2 separate regions of the Homo sapiens genome follow, and region 2 is linked to region 1. The links come from fine-mapping of genetic effects on gene expression. Tissue or cell type: whole blood. Region 1 holds a variant in brackets; the other region holds the start of a gene. All regions are shown on one strand. Distances are between the middles of the regions. Region 1 has its middle 24 kb from the start of RETREG1. Region 2 holds the start of RETREG1 (reticulophagy regulator 1).

Region 1 (5,374 bases):
TTGATATAGAATTTATAGAGTATGTATTAGGGTAACTAGTTGCTTTAGCCAACAAATTCCTATGTTTCAACCACTTAATATAATGAAAGATGATTTTTTGCTTCTGTGACAGTCCAATATCGACATCATGTTGGGAGAGTGGTAGTTACTCCCTGCGGCTCTTCAGGGGCCCAGATTGACAGGGGATCTGCCTTCTACATTTAGCTTCCAAGGTCTCCCTGGGTGGAGCTGGGCAGAGCTGGCAGAAAGGAAACAAACAGTCCATTGAATTGTTGAATAAGGACATTCACTTCTTAACCTTTTCAGCCTGGAAGTGACTTCACTTCTGCTCCCAATCCACTAGCAAGACCTAATCATGTGGCATTACTTACATGCAAGGGATGCTGAGAAATGGATGCAGCGGCTGCTGGGAAATGCAGCTTCAAGCTGGACAACTGCCCTTTCCATAGCAACTGTATTGTACATAAGGAGAGAATGATGCTTTGGTGGACAGTTAGCTGTCACTGTCACAGTCTGCCTCTCTGGCCAAGAAATATTCACAAATACTCTCTTCTCCAAATTCAGAAAATTCTTCCCCTGGCCAAAAATAACACTCAAGGGAGTTAACTCAAAATTCTATTGAGTTACTGCATCCCTAGGAACAAAACAGATGGGCAGCCAGCAAGAGATTGTTCAATCTGTATAACCAAGAGAAATCAAGGATGCGTGATCAGGAACCTGAAAGTCACCAATAAAAAGTCACAATCCCTTGTCCAGTTTCTGGGGTTGAGCCACTGTTTGGCCCCAGGTGCATTGACTAAAGAAAAGACTGTGTCCCTAGGAGGCAGAGCCTTGCAAAACCACACAGCAAGAGGGTGAGGTCCTGGGTCTCCCAGGCTTTTACCAAAGGGATATACTTGGGTCACTGAATACCAAGGATTACCCAAACATTTGAGTGACTGTTGCACGAGGTCTTAGTAGACATTAATACCTAGAGACACAAACGGGCATCTTGGGCCCCTGTTAGAGCGGAGAATATTGGAGTAGCTAAAACATGGAGACTGGCCCAGATCCTGCCTATTTATGGTGTGTCCACTGGGTCTGCAGACTCATCCAAGTGGTCACGTCTCTGGACCCCAAATGTATAATGGAAATAGACATGCTTCATTTGTTGGTTCCTAGGCTTAGGGTAAGACTATCATCGTAGAAAGGACCAAGGGGAATCCTCTGAAATGAACCCCCCTCTATAACCATAGACAGTGCGTCCAAAGCGATACAGCATTCCAAAATGAATGGCAGAAATTAGTGTCATCCCTAAAGGACCAGAAGATGCAGGGTGATGGACCCCATCATGTTGCCATTTAATTCACAAGCGTGGGCCCTGCAAAAACCAGACAGATCCTGGAGGATGACAATGGTCCATGGCAAACTCAATTAAGCAGCAGTCGCCATTGCAACTGCTGTGTCAGGTGTGATATCATTGCTAGGTCAGAATACCTTGGCCTGAGTGGATGTTACATGTGAATTAACATACATTCTTGCTTGGAATCCCATTTTTTAAAAATAATTTCTAATGAACTTTAATTAGAATGTATAACTTTGATGTCTGAAGATAGATGAAACCTGTAGGATATGTTTATTTCTTCAAAGACGTTACATAATTAAAGTGTAATAAATGATATCACCTATAATAACTAATTTTCACATGGTTCTTATTTGGCGAACTCAGTAATTCAAAACATGGCAAGAATCTGGTAGGAAGCAAAACTTGGCTTCATGTGAGTAACTCATAACTGTTCGTGTGAGCTTTGCTGATTCCATTTGTGCTTGAAAAGGGTCAGGAAAGATTATCCTCCCTTTCATCACAGTCAGCAGGCATCCTCTTCTCTCCTCATTCGCCTGTGCCCTCTGCAGCGAATGATCTGTCACCTGCAAAACCATCACCACCACCCCTTAAGTTCCTCTGACCTTCTACCCCTAACTGAAAACCTGTGTATTCCCAGCAACCTTCTCAAGTGAGGGTTGTTTGCATCCCAGCTCTGTGCCACTGGGCCTGGGGTGAGGTGATTATTCTTTTAGCCCCTCCAGACCCTTGCTCTTCCTTCTTTTCTGAAAACCCTCACATTGTTTGAAGCAGTGCTATTGGAACAGACCATCCTTACCCCTTCCTCATACAAGTATTTGGCTGTCTTTCTCTGCCCAACTGTTCTGGAGACTTCCCTCTCACAGACAGTCCATCCAGCGGCCCTGGCTTCTTGGTCCTTTGACCTCCTTACTCCTAGTAATCTTCCCCACCAAACTCTGGCCTGCTGCTCCCAAACTATTTCATTTCACTTTTTCTTTTTCTTTTCTTCTTTTTTTTCGAGACAGTCTCACTCTGTCGCCCAGGCTGGAATGCAGTGGCTCAATCTCGGTTCACTGCAAGCTCTGCCTTCCAGGTTCACGCCATTCTTCTGCCTCAGCCTCCTGAGTAGCTGGGACTACAGGTGCCTGCCACCATGCCTGGTTAATTTTTTG[T/C]ATTTTTAGTAGAGACGGGGTTTCACTGTGTTAGCCAGGATGGTCTCGATCTCCCGACCTCGTGATCTGCCTGCCTTGGCCTCCCAAAATGCTGGGATTACAGGCGTGAGCCACCGCGCCCAGCCTCATTTCCACTTTTTCTCAGCACAGTCCCTCTAGTGACACTTCTCCAACAATGCTAGCCCATGATGACTTCCAAACCAGTGAGGCCACTTTCTTCAATGTCCACTGCTCCCTCCTTCCACAGTCTAGAATCTCTCATCCATAAGTATAATTTCATTTGTATATACCCTCAGCTCCCTCCTCATCCCTCCCCTCCCTACATTTGTCTTCAAAAATCCCACCCACAGCTAAATCCAACTCTCTAAGTCTATATTTGATGGTTAATTTTATGTGTCAACATGACTGAGCCATGGGATGCCCAGATAACTGCTCAGACATTATTTCTGTGTGGTCTCTGAGGGTGTATCCAGAAGAGATTAGCATTTGAATTGGTGAACTGAGTAAAGCCCTTGTGGGTGGGCATTACCCAATCTATTAGCAAAGGGAGGTTGAGTCCACTCTCTGCTGATTACTGGAGCTGCCTTATTGATCTTCTCCTGTCCTTGGAGCACCTGGTTCTCAGGCCTTCTGACCCAGAATGGAATCTACACCATTGGCTCTCTGGCTTTCAGGCCTTGGAATTATATCACAAGCTTTCTTGGGTCTCCAGCTTGCAGACAGAAGCTTGTGGGACTTAATGAAGTATCCATAATCAACCTCCATAATCACATGAGCCAATGCCTTATAATCCGTTTCTTTCTGGTTATATATATCTTATTGGATCTGTTTCTCTGAGGACCCCTGACTAATGCCCTGTATTTGAGCAGCTGAATATTGCTGGAGAAACATAACCACGATAGCTCTCACTTTATCACAGTCTTCAGAAGCTGGCAGCCCCTTCACATCCATCCTGCCACCCTTCCCTAATGAATTCAGTCTCTTGTTTCCTGACCCAAGACCACTTTCTCAAAACTCCTCTCTAAGCTCCCTGCAGCCATTCCTTCTATTTGTCACTTATTGCACTGTGAAAATCCAATGGTTAGCAGAGAACATTTGCATCTTCTACAACATCTTCCAATTTATCCTACATATTCTCATGGCCTTCATGCCATGTAGATGCTGACTTTCTCTCCCTTGAGCTTAAGGTCTTCCTATTTGATCTTCTACTTGGTTTCTCCACTTGCATGTGTATTAGGCAGGTGAAATATAGCACGTCCAGAAAAGAATGCCTGATTTTCTCTCCCCCTTATTTCCTATCTTGCTCAGTTGTCAGGCATCATTCTTGACTCCTCTGTGTCCCTGACATTCCACATCTAGTCCATGAACATGTACTGTTTCTACCTCCCCTGGTCTTCCAAATTCAACCATTTCTTAGCACCTCCACCACTACCATTCTCTCTTTCTGTGACTACTACAGTAGCCCCTACCAGATCTCCCAGCCTCCATGCATGTTGCGTCATCGGTAATCAGAACCATCTTTTAAAGATGAAAATTGGCCAGGCGTGCTGGCTCATGCCTGTAATCCCAGCACTCTGGGAGGTTCAGGAAGGTGGATCACTTGAAGTCAGGAGTTCAAGACCAGCCTGGCAAACACGGTGAAACCCCTTCTCTGTTAAAAATGCAAAAAATTAGCCAGGTGTGGTGGCATGCCCCTGTAATCCCAGCTACTTGGCAGACTGAGGCAGGAGAATCGCTTGAACCCGGGAGGCAGAGGTTGCAGTGAACCGAGATTGCAGCACTGCACACTAGCTTGGTGACAGAGTCAGACTGCCTCAAAAAGATAAATAAAGATGAAAATTGGATCAAGTATCTTCTTGCACAAAATCTTTCATTGGTTTCTCATCACTATTTAGAATAAAATTGAGTCTCCTTCCATGGTCTGCGAAGTCCTGCACTGTGGTCCACTCTGCCACCTCTCCAACCTCATCCCCATCGCTTTTCCATCCCCAGCCCTGGTGTCCTCTGCTCTTCTTGTTTCTTGAGCATTTCAAGCTGGTTCTGGCTTCACAATCCTCACCCCTGCTGTTCACTGTCTAGCATTGGCTTGCCTGCAGAATTTCACATTACTGGCTGCCTTACTTCATTTAAGTGTCTGCTTAAAAGTCACTTCCCTGAGGGTGGAGCCAAGGTGGCCAAATAGGAACACCTCCAGTCTACAGCTCCCAGTGCGAGCAACGCAGAAGACGGGTGATTTCTGCATTTCCAACTGAGTTACTGGGTTCATCTCACTGGGGAGTGTCAGAAAGTGGGTGCAGGACAGTGGGTGCAGCACACCGCATGTGAGCCGAAGCAGGGCAAGACATCGCCTCACCCGGAAAGCTCAAGGGGTCAGGGAATTCCCTTTCCTAGTCAAAGAAAGGGGTGACAGCACCTGGAAAATCAGGTCACTCCCACCCTAATACAGCGCTTTTCCAACAGTCTTAGCAAACGGCACACCAGGAGATTATATCCTGCGCATGGCTCGGAGGGTCCTACGCCCACAGAGCCTTGCTCATTGCTAGCACAGCAGTCTGAGATCAAACTGCAAGGTGGCAGCGAGACTGGCGGAGGGGCGCCCGCCATTGCCCAGGCTTGAGTAGGTAAACAAAGTGGCCATGAAGCTCGAACTGGGTGGAGCCCACCATAGCTCAAGGAGGCCTGCCTGCCTCTGTAGGATCCACTTCTGGGGGCAGGGTATAGCCAAACAAAAGGCAGCAGAATCCTCTGCAGACTTAAATGTCCCTGTCTGACAGTTTTGAAGAGAACAGTGGTTCTCCCAGCACACAGCTGGAGATCTGAGAACGGGCAGACTGCCTCCTCAAGTGGGTCCCTGATCCCCGAGTAGCCTAACTGGGAG
Region 2 (5,362 bases), 23 kb after region 1:
CTTTACTGGAGCTGTCTCATTTTCTAAACTCTCATTCAGTAGCTAGAACTTTTTTTTTTCTCAGACACGTTTCCAGTTTCCTTTTCTCAGATATATATTGTCAAATCATCTAGCTCACTAGTGTTAATCACTCTGTTCCTAATATATAGCAATAAAATTTCAGAAGAGAATCTTAGTAAGATTACTTGCAGGAGTTCAAGAATGTGGCGTGTTCTTAAAACTAGGGGACAAGGTTGATTTCAACCATTGTTAGCATTATGTTTCTGTAATCTTAGCCCTGAATAAATTACTCAAGCATCACAAAGATCATTAGACAAACAACAAAACAACAACAAAATCCCACCCAGCAGCACCATTTGTATGTCTATGCCAGTGTCTACTTCTGTCATACAGTTTGTAAGTATTAGAGGTCGGAGGTGAAAAGGAAAGGTTAATTAGCCCAGCCTTTTATGCAAAACAGGTTGCATAGCATTTTCTCCATAGTAATTTTGAGAGAGAGAGAAAGGATAGACTTTACAACACATAGCTGTGGGGAAGGAGGTTTATTATTAAACAGAGATAATAAATAAGTGTTGGAAACCACACACAGCAACTGGAGCTTAGCTTTTATGTGTCTTGGTTGCCAGCAGCTTTTACTACTTCAACAGATCCTGACAACAATAATTAGAATTCAAGGGAAGCAGGAGGAAGGTGATTAATCTTGCAAACCCATTTCTGGTAGCACATCAGCACTGGTCTGGGGAACGGGGACACCTGGTTCTTCCTCTCTCCTGCCCCATGTTCTCCACACTGGCTGCAGCACACATCTGTCTAGTGACAGATTTTAGAATAGCAAACCCTGGGCTGTATCAAGCGCCAAACAAAGGCCAAATGACACAATAAAAGCATCATTTATCTTTCAAAAACTTCTCCGCTACTGCCAAGAGGGAGGACCCACACCTGGGAAAAGATTGTCTCTCTTATATGGAAGAAACCTGAATTGTTTCCACGTTGCTTTTTCCTTGACACCCAGGCCACTTTCCATCGGGTTGTCAGGATACTCCTAAGAAGGGGAGTCGGAAATGCCAGATGTTCTGTATCACCTTTAGTTAAAAACCAAGCCTCCTGTTACTAGAGACCATTCAATGTCCACTATTCCCTTTGGTGAGTTACTTAAGGAACTGTGCGTCTCCACCTGCAACCCCATGCCTCCTCTCCTGTTGAATTCCCAACAGCAGTTATTGCCCCTGTCCCCAATCCCCACACTAATGGGGGCCCTACAATTTAGGGCAGAGGCCATTTATTACAAAACGCTCTTGAAACCTGATCCCTCCACTCCTCCCCTAATTTTGGATGCACAGTTTAAGTAAGGAATCTCTTAGCACTTAGCGAAGGCTTCTTCGCTGTGGCAGATATCACAATTGTAACTGGGCCCTCATCAGACTGGGAGCTTCCTGTGGGTGGAAGCTGCATCCACAGAGCTTAGCAATGCTTTGTGTACTCGGTAGGTGCTCAGTAAGCCTTTGCCTGGGCTCTGGGAATATAACTCCTTTGAAGTACAACATACAAGCAGTAAAGTGCAGACACCTGCAGTGAATGTACAGATCAATGGATTCCACGTGTGTATACACAGAGGTTTACAATGGCCACCCAGAGGAGCGTTACAGAACATTCCCCTAGAGACTCCCTTGACGCAGGGAATTTAATTGCCCTCCCTTCCATCCTGTGCAGGCAGGCTGGTTGCCAGTAAAGGGATATGAGATGCCCTGATGCATCCGCAGACAGAACCCTTAGTATGGGGGGGAAGGACCTGTCATTCTAGAGTAAAAGTAAGACCAGGAAGATTAAAGAAGACAAAAATTTAAAAATGCAAATGGTGAAAAGCATAAACAACTATTTTCCTCTCTCCCCACACTCACCCAGAAGCACCGGGGCCAAAGAGAGGGCATGGGAGGTCTCAGGATCCCCTGCCGCCCCACCACTGCCCTGATGCCCGCTTGTGACGCAGAGACCGGAGTGGCTCTGAAATTACTGTCTTCAAAGCAGGCCAAACCTTGCTTGACACGTGCAAAGTTCCAATCTCTTGCTTCTCAGCTCCCCGCACGCGCGGGCCAACGTGCACTTCTGAGCCAGATCACCTAGCCACAAGGAGGGGGAGAGAGGGGGAGATAGGAGGAGAGAGGGGAAGATAGGGGGAGAGACGGGGGAGAGAGAGGGAGAGGCAGAGAGAGAGAGAGAGACAGAGAAGAGAAAGGAAGCACCTGAGACAGAGAGAAAGAAGAGAGAGAAAGGAAGCAGCTTCCCCCAACGCTGCGGCCTTGTGTTTCCTCCCGTGTCAAACGAGAGGGCCCCAAATTGACCCCAAATGTTTTTTCTTCCTTTCTCAATCCAACATTTATACCAGCACGTTATTTCCAGGATGCCCAGGACCTCTGCTATGGTTGTGCTGCTGTCCCTGCAAAGGCGCTGGGGATGGCCGAGGTGGGGGATGTCTCTGGGGGCTGAAATACGCTGCCAGGGGAAGGGGCGCCCCGATACCACCCTCAGTGGCTGCTGGTTGGGCGACCGGTGGCCCTGGCTTGAGAAAGTGAAAATGTCCAATCTATTTTGCCTGGAGCCTTGGGTCTCTTTTGGATACGGAACCGAGCAGCAGTCCTCCACTTCGCCCTCTCCCGCCGCTGCAAGGGAAAAGGTCGTTTTCCTCGAGTCCCGGAGAGGCCCTCCAGGAACCCAGAGCCCCCCGGGGACACCGCCCAGCTCCCGGCGCCCGGCCCCGCCCCTGCGCGAACTCGGCCGCACCCACTTTCCCGGGCGGCTCCCCCTCCGTGGCCTGTGGCGTCACAAGGCCCCCAGCCGCCTGTGCCCCGCGGTGCGCGCCCCGCTCCGGGACCTGCCGCCACCGCCGCCCCGCCCTCGGCGGCACCCACACCCAGGCGCGCCCGCGCGCGCGCCCGGCCCCGTCCCTGTCTGGAAGCACAGCTGAAGATGGCGAGCCCGGCGCCTCCGGAGCACGCCGAGGAGGGATGCCCGGCTCCTGCCGCCGAGGAGCAGGCGCCGCCGTCGCCGCCACCGCCCCAGGCATCCCCCGCAGAGCGGCAGCAGCAGGAGGAGGAAGCGCAGGAAGCTGGGGCGGCGGAGGGCGCGGGGTTGCAGGTGGAGGAGGCCGCGGGCCGGGCGGCGGCCGCGGTAACCTGGCTGCTCGGGGAGCCGGTGCTGTGGCTGGGCTGCCGCGCCGACGAGCTGCTGAGCTGGAAGAGGCCGCTGCGGAGCCTGCTCGGCTTCGTCGCTGCCAACCTGCTGTTCTGGTGAGAGCTTGGGCAAGGTGGGGGCGCTGAGGAGGGCAGGTGACCTTGGGGCGCCCGGGGCCCCGGGGACCCAGTGCAGGGGGAGCCCGCGGGACACTGCGGAGGAAGAATTGTCAGCCCTGCCCCACTTTCTCGGCCACCTGTCTCGAACAGGTAGACACTCACCGCAACTTTCCTCCGGACGCACGTCCCTGTGAGCAGTTGTCGTTCTCCGTGTGCGGATCCAGCCTCAGATGCGAGGTGGTCGGCCGACCCTCAGGCACCTGCACCTACAGGTGTTCCCATCGTGCTTGAAAACTTCGCCCCTGCTTTCTAAAACTCTGAGGTCTTGACCTGCTCGCCCAAGCTTGCCGGAGCAAACGTGCTTGAACGTGTCTTGGTTCTTGCAGCCCCAGCAGGCATATCTGGACCAGATTAGGTACCCGTTCAAAACGGTGCCGCATTCATCAGTCACCTGAGATGGGCCCTGAATGATTTGTTTTTTCCTTCCCCTGGAGCGTTAGGTTTACTGTGTTTACTCCCTGATGAGAAAACGGGAGGCAAACAAGCAGGTGGAGTATGCCCAGCACCCACCCCCGGGTGTGCACAGTGTGGAAAACAGGCATATTTTTAGGTGAAGTACAGGGAGAACACACGGGAATGCTCAGCCCCTGAGCAACAGGTTTGTCTCTCCAAAAAGCGCTCTTCAGAAAGGCCAGGGAAATGTCTGTCTCCTTCGTTGAAAGTGGTGTCCTGTCATCCGTTACCACGCTATTGAGGGCGGAGAAAAACCTTCTTTGTTTGCTAAGTGTCCTCATAACAAACATGACCTACACAGTGCAGAATAATCAGACTCCGGTAACAGATACCTTGTTACAGGACAGAGATTTCTGAACCTTAAAGTTGAGAAATAAATAAATTGCACAAAATAGACAGCCTGTCATTTTCTAGGTTAACTTGAGCAAGATGAATATTTTCCTCAGATCTCTGCTAGTCCTGGTGTTTTCTCTTAAAACTAGCTGTATCTTGTCGGAGGTCCCTGAAAGTGAATTAACTTTGGATCTCTTAGGTATCTGTGTTTGGAATAGAGTTTATTCCAAATCTATCTTATTATGGAGTGAATGCGAGCACTCAAATAAGAAGGACATATTGTCTTATGCTAGATTGGGCAATAGTCTAATAGTCTTAGGGCTGTGTCTCACTAATGTTTACGATGTTTTTAACATTTTATTTCTTTTTCTTTTCTTTCTTTCTTTCTTTTTTTTTTTTTTTTGAGATGGAGTCTCACTCTGTCGCCCAGGCTGGAGTGCAGTGGCGCGATCTCGGCTCGCTGCAAGCTCTGCCTCCCGGGTTCACGCCATTCTCCTGCCTCAGCCTCCCGAGTAGCTGGGACTACAGGCGCCCGCCACCACGCCTGGCCAGTTTTTTGTATTTTTTTTAGTAGAGACGGGGTTTCACCGTGTTAGCCAGGATGGTCTCGATCTCCTGACCTCGTGATCCGTCCGCCTCGGCCTCCCAAAGTGCTGGGATTACAAGCGTGAGCTACTGCGCCCGGCCTTAACATTTTATTTCTTAATTTTAAATTTTATTTCTTTAAAAAACTAATACAGTCTCACAGTGCAAAAGTTTAAAGGTACAAAAGGGTAAGCATTTTGAAAATCTCTTTCTCATCCCAGTCCCTGGCCGCCCAGTTTCCTCACGGAGGCCAGCAATGTTGCTAGTTTCCTGTGTCTCTTTCCAGATAGTGCACATTTCAGCAAATACACCATATTCTATGCAAATTGTGGAATAACATATGAGCTCTTCCTTTTCCTAGTATTTCTTGGTGATTGCTTCCTTGTTCTTTTTCAGCTGCTTCAGAATTCTATTGTAAGGATGTCTCAAATTACTTAACCTGTCTCCTACTGAGGCAGTAATGTTTCCAAGCTTTTGCTATTTCAGCATTATAGCTAATGACCCTGTACATGCATCATTTTGCATATATGCAAGTATTTTAGAGAACTTCCCAGAAGTGGAATTGCTGGGTCAGAGGGCATGTGCACTTGTAATTTTGATGGCTGTCACCATATTGCATGCAGCTCCTTAGGGTTCTAACAATT

Evidence for each region.
Region 2: RETREG1 starts here. The variant in region 1 is fine-mapped to the expression of RETREG1 in whole blood (TOPMed, PIP 0.93).

What each region holds. Positions count from the first base shown.
Region 1 is chr5:16,638,031-16,643,404 of GRCh38, reverse strand. No RefSeq gene overlaps it. Among named protein-coding and RNA genes, the nearest start is that of RETREG1, 24 kb to the right of the region's middle. The variant T/C (reference allele first, on the strand shown) is at 2,497.
Region 2 is chr5:16,614,574-16,619,935 of GRCh38, reverse strand. It overlaps RETREG1 (reticulophagy regulator 1), which reads left to right and starts at 2,939. Exons shown (of 9, transcript NM_001034850.3): 1 at 2,939-3,284. The coding sequence starts at 2,965. It overlaps RETREG1-AS1 (RETREG1 antisense RNA 1), which reads right to left and starts at 4,010. Exons shown (of 4, transcript NR_109946.1): 1 at 3,450-4,010. RefSeq lists a silencer at 2,696-3,185.